Regions from separate parts of the Homo sapiens genome. Here region 2 is linked to region 1. Evidence: fine-mapped expression QTL. A gene starts in region 1. The other region holds a variant in brackets. All regions are shown on one strand. Distances are from middle to middle. Region 1 holds the start of TBX1 (T-box transcription factor 1). Region 2 overlaps TXNRD2 (thioredoxin reductase 2).

What was found. PIP is the estimated chance that this variant, and not a neighbour inherited with it, causes the effect. A credible set is the group of variants that fine-mapping cannot tell apart.
Region 2: its variant is the best candidate, but not a certain one, in a credible set for the expression of TBX1 in skeletal muscle (GTEx, PIP 0.64).

Annotation. Positions count from the first base shown.
Region 1 is chr22:19,759,508-19,762,400 of GRCh38, reverse strand. TBX1 (T-box transcription factor 1) reads right to left here and starts at 1,623. Exons shown (of 7, transcript NM_001379200.1): 1 at 1,121-1,623. The coding sequence starts at 1,557. RefSeq lists an enhancer at 1-568.
Region 2 is chr22:19,883,530-19,886,422 of GRCh38, reverse strand. All of the region lies in intron 11 of TXNRD2 (thioredoxin reductase 2), which reads left to right. Among named protein-coding and RNA genes, the nearest start is that of RTL10, 30 kb to the right of the region's middle. The variant G/T (reference allele first, on the strand shown) is at 1,779.

The sequences.
Region 1 (2,893 bases):
TTGCCGTCCCCTCTGCCTCCCCTCACAAGCAACTCCCTGCAGGCGGTGGGCAGAAGACAGATGCCAGGAGCCAGCCTCTAGGACAGGCCCGCTCCCTCCCCCACCCGAAGCCTCTGCAGGCTGGAGGGTGCTGCGGGACGTGGGCTCCCGGGTGAAGCCCAGCGCCGACAAGGCCCTTGCCGGGCTGGCCTGAGCCAGCGGCTGGGCTGCCGCTGTCCTCAGGAGGGCCTGTGTGCCTGGGGACAGCAAGGAGGGCCTGGAAAAAAACCACAGAGCTGGAGCAGAGCACAGGCCCAGGTTCCTCAGAAAGGACGCCGGCAGCAGGGAAACAGAAACCACGAGAAGGCTTTGCAAACAGGCCCTGAGCTCCCCTTGGCTGTTCGGACTCCGAGCTGGTGTGTACATTAGACACAGCGCGGCACCCGCCTTTGTCTACCGGTCAAATCGGGTGCATCTGCAAAACTTGTTCCCCTTGTCTCTTGGTCTTTAAAACAAATACAGGCCGGTTGGGAGGTGACGGGCCGCTGGATACAGAGCCAGGCCCCACAACTATAGGGATCTAGGTTGAAGGAAACTGGGTAGCAACTTCCACGCAACAGTGCACGCTGTTTTTAAGGGTAATCCTCTCCTGAAAGTGTCCAGAGAGTTGCCCGGCTGCCGCTCTTTATCTTGCCCGCATAGACTGAACTCCAGAACTGAACCAGAGTTTTCTTGAGGTGGGATTTACTAGGAGTCGGCCGGGCGGTGAGGCCCCCTGGACGCCGCTGCCTGCCCCCAGCCGGGTGCGCCCCAAGCCGGGCCGGTTTCTGGGCCGCGCGGCGTCCTGGGGCTGCGGGGCGGGCGGGCGAGTCCCGCGGGGCTCCTCGCCGTTCCCGTGCGGCCCGCGCCGTCTCCTCCCGCCCCGGCGGAGGATAGGTGTTAGGAGGGGAGCGCCGGGCGGCTGTCGCCGGAGCCGGGACGGCGAACAGCGAAGGAGGCAGCGGGGCCCAGAGGGGCCCGCAGGTGGCCAGGCCGCGCCCCCGACCCGGCTTTCGGCCCCGCTCGCGCGGATCAGGCGGAGGCCCGCAGCCCTGGCGGCAGCACGTGGGGAGGGTCGCGGCGTGGGGAGGGGCGCCCTGACCTGCCGGCCTTGGTGACGATCATCTCGGTGCCCAGCTGGTTGAACTCGTCCCACAGCGCCTTCATCTCTAGCTGCACGCTCACACCGGCCACCTTCGCGTTCTTCTTCACCGGCGCCTTGGCTGCGGCCGCGCAGCTGGCCCCGGGGCCCTCGGGCTCGGCGGCGGCGCTGGTGGCGGCCCCGGCGGCCGGCGCAAACGGGTAGGCGTGCGGCGGCGGCGGCGGGCCCGGGGCGCCGGGGGCGGCGGCGGCGCACGGGTCGTAGCGCGGCGGCGGCGGCGGGGGCTCGCGCGGGCCGTACGGGTCGGCGCCGGGCGACGCGGCGCCCGGGAAGCCCCCCGCGGCCCCCAGGCTGCTCAGGCTGCTGGCCGTGAAGGCTGCAACGTCGCAGAAATGCGAGAGCTGCGTGAGCCACGGGCTGGACACGGCGGAGATCATGACCCGCGGGCCGCCGCCGCCGCCCCCGCCACCAAGCTGAGCGCTGCCCCGCGCCGCGGGCCGAGTGGCGGGCGCCGCGCTGCGTGCGCCCCGGGCCGTGCAGCCCCACACCGCAGGCCGGCCCCGAGGAGGCGCCCCGCCCCGCCCCGCCCGGGGCCCCCCCACCCCCGCGCGGAGACAATGGACTAGATCCCTCCCCCGGCCCTCGCCCCTCCCCCGCCCCTTCCCCCTCCCCGGCCCCCAGCCCGCCCGCCGCGGCTCGCTCGGCCCGGGGCCCCCCGACCGCCCGGACCGGCTCACCGGTGCGCCGGGCCCGTCGGCCGGCCCTCGCTCTGCCGCCCGCCCGCGTGCGTTTCTCCTCTCTCTCTCCCAGACGTTCTTTTCCTAATTTGTTATTTTACCTTTGTCGTCCTCATTTAAATTTTCCCTCCCGATCATCTTTTTTCTTCCCCTATCTCTGTAGTTTCTCTTTATTTCTGTTTTACTTTCCGCCTCTTCCCCTTTTCCTCCATCCTCGCCTTCCTTTTCACTTTATTTTTAATCATTCTTTGTCTTTCTTTTAGTCGGTGCCTTTCCTCTTATTTTTGTATGTCCTTTGTTTTTTATGTTTTTCTTTTTAAAAAAAAAAAAACTAAAGTCTTTCCTTTTTTTCTTTTTTATGACTTCGCTTTCTGTCTTAAATTTTCCCTTCGTTTTCTCTCTTCTCTTTCGCTCTTGCTTTTTATTGCCTTTTCGTGTCCTTCTGTTTCTCCCCTACCTTCTTCTTTGGGTTTTTTGTGTTTTCTCCCCTTTGCTCAATTTCGTCTCCACGGCTTCCTCGAGGCTTTCTCTCCTTCTGTGAAACTCTCCCGCTCTCTCCTCTCTTATTAACTTTCCTCCCCCCTCTCCAGGCTCACGGCCACCTCTGCTCTCCTTCCCAGCCTCACTCGCCCTCTTCCGGGCCTGTGTATACCTGAGTGCCCATCTCCAAGCTGGGCCCCCAGGCTGGTGAGGGGACAGGCTGTGGGCGGGATGCCGGCTCTTCCTCTCTGCCCCAGAATCGCAGCCAGAAGCCTGGAGCCCACGCTACCAAGAGCTGCCTCCACCTACTTTGCACCCGGGCCCCACAGCAGCTGAGGCAGGGGGTCTGGCGGGCGGGCCAGTGTAGACACGGCCTGGAGGCTCACCTTCCATGTCCCTGGTGACGGTGCTGAAGTGCATCCCTGCCGGGGATCCTGGCAGCCAGCGAAGCTTCACCCGGTCGGAGGACCCTGAGCCCTGGTGGGCGGTGCGCTCCGCCGCCTCCGCTGCAACCAGAGAGGCGATGCTGAACGCACTGGCTCGGGGAGACAGCGGG
Region 2 (2,893 bases), 120 kb before region 1:
AGTAGGGCCTAGGACGCCTGATTGGCTGTCCAGCACCAGCAGGGAGATCTGGCCCTTCTCTGGCCACTGCCCAGTCCTTTGCTCAGCAAGACCCATAGTGGGGCTCAGGGCCTGGTGTCCTGCCATCAGGGCTGGCCACGGCTAGGGACGTGGCCCCACCCAAGTGGAGCTGGCCTCTTCCCTGCACCCACTCCCAGCCACGTCCCACCAGCCCAGCTTCTAACCCCACTGTGCCCTCGGCTGCCCTCCTCAGGGCTGAGCCTGCTGCCTGCCACAGGCCACTCACTCTTCTTTTGCTGTTCATTCCCGAAGGGCTGTGGAGTCCCTGCAGGGCCAGGCGTGTCTGTGCCGCGCAGCCCACTCTCCCCTGGCCATCCAGCCTGTCCAGCTGTCATGCCTTTCACATTAGTGGCTCCATTACATTCCCACCGACTTCCCAGAGTGATCCACAGAGCATGTGCGGAAGAGTCCTGGCTTTGGATGGGCCACCTATTTCCATGCCTCTTTTATCTCTTGTGACTACTTTTAAATTTATCTTTATTTCCTTCGGGACCTGGGGACAGGGTTTGGTCAGCACCTGCAAGGTCTGTAGTTGCCATAGTGCCATAGTTACCATGAGGAACATGATGAGTGCTCTTGGCTTCCCAGGACCAGCCAGGCAAGCGTGCAGAGGAGAGTGTGGGTGCAGCGTCAGATGTTCTGTTCCGGCACGGAGCAGGCACCAGGAAGTGCTGGGCCTGGTGGGCTGGACACCAGGTTGGAGAGGGACCAGACGGCTGAGCGTGAGCCCCCGGCCTGCAGGGACCACAGCCCCTCCTTCGTGCCCCAGCCCTGCCCATGGGGCCCAGCTCCTTCCTCTGATGTGGGCTGGCATCCCCTGTGTCTGGGCTGATCCCCGACCGGTGCCAGCCCTCCCGGCACCCAATTCCTGCGGCTGAGCAGAGCACAGAGGCTGGAGCCGGCCTCCCGCAAGCTGGCTTAGCCAAGTTGGTATGTTTTGACTCCTGCCCCGGGACAGCAGCTGGAGACTTAAGGGTTCCCTCTCACGGGAGCTTCAGCTTCCAGATGCTTAGGTGGGCGCCACCCGCATACCGGCCAGCAGCTGGTTTGTCCCAGCCACGATGAGCAGGGGAGCTATGCTTTTGAGGCAAAATTGCCTTCGCCATTGGTGGATCATCCTGAGCCCCTGGGAGCCGAGAGCACCTGGGGTTGGGAGGGAAAAGCTGCTGTGGCCATCCGCTGGCCTGGCAAAATCACACCCATCTGAGTTAGGGGAGAAAGGGACCTCTGCTGGCTGTTCGGCTATGAAGAGGCCCATGCGGTGCCCTCTCTCCGGGCCCCAGGCTGTGTGGAGACTGGCAGGGGGCAGCTGTGCTGACCCCCTGGACTGGCCATCCCCTGCCCCTCTTGGCCTTTGCACCCAAGAGCAGGATCAGCTGAGCCAGCTGCCCCCTAGAATGGGCACGGTGTAGTTTGGACACTGCCCCTTAGCTCAGCTCCCCTTGGCCCTGAGGTCTCTAGGCTGGGACTGTGTGCCAGGCAGCCACGAGGGGCTGCAGCACAGAGCAGGTGGGAGACCCGGCTGCTAGCTCTGCTCACCTGGCCCTCTACTAGCGGGTTACGGGGGCTTGCTTTCTCCTAATGGGGAGAGACCTTCAAGCCCTACCTGGGCAGAGGGCCAGATCCCAGGACTTGAGCATTGTTGGGGTACAGTCCAGGGTGTGGCTGGCTCCTCTTCAGCTTGTCCAGATAGGGAGGAGGCCATTGGGAGCCAGCAG[G/T]TGTCCCTTGAAGGAGGCCCCTCTGGACTCTTGAGGCCTGGGAGCTGATGGATCTCACTGCCTAATGGTATCAGGCTGTGGTGCTGCAGACAGATGCAGGGAGGCCAGGCAGGCCAGGTGCCAACAGCTCCCCATGAAGGGCTGGTTTCTCCGGATGAAGTCAGTACCAGAGCCACTGGCACTGTGCTGGTGGCCCTGCAGCAGGGCCTGAGGCCTGGGCATGCGGAAGATTCTGGAGTCCCGCGCTTAGCACTCTTTGATGTCAGGGAGCCCCAGCATTGGCAAGTGCCTCTTCCTTTCCCGCGTGCCAGGAACCAGTCTAAGGCCGACTCCAGTTTCCACCGGTGGCACCCCTGCCTTGTCTCCTGTGCCGGCTGTCATCTGACCAGTGTCCGTTTCAGACCTGCCTGCCACCTCCTGCAGAGGCCAGGAGCCCCTCTACGCTGCTGGTGCTTCACATTTGGCCAGTTCTAAGTGGACATTCTTTTTTCTTGAGACAGTCTCACTCTGTCGCCCAGGCTGAAGTGCAGTGGTGTGATCTTGGCTCACTGCAACCGACACCTCCCGGGTTCAAGCAATTCTCATGCCTCACCCTCCCAAGTAGCTGGGATTACGGGTGCATGCCACCACACCCAGCTATTTTTGTATTTTTAATAGAGACAGGGTTTCTTTCTTTTCTTTTCTTTCTTTTTTTTTTTTTGAGACAGAGTTTTGCTCTTGTTGCGCAGGCTGGAGCGCAATGGTGCAATCTTAGCTCACTGCAGCCTCCACCTCCTGGGTTCAAGCGATTCAACCTCCCGAGTAGCTGGGACTATAGGTGTGCACCACTACGCCTAGGTAATTTTGTATTTTTAGTAGAGATGGGGTTTCACCATGTTGGCCAGGCTGGTTTTGAACTCCAGACCTCAGGTGATCCACTTGCCTCGGCCTCCCAAAGTGTTGGGATTATAGGCATGAGCCATCACGCCTGGCTGAGACAGGGTTTCATCATGTTGGCCAGCCTGGTCTCGAACTCATGACCTCAGGTGATTTGCCCACCTCGTCCTCCTACAGTGCTGGGATTACAGGCAGGAGCCACTGCACCCGGTCTCTAAGTGGACATTCTGAGAAACAGT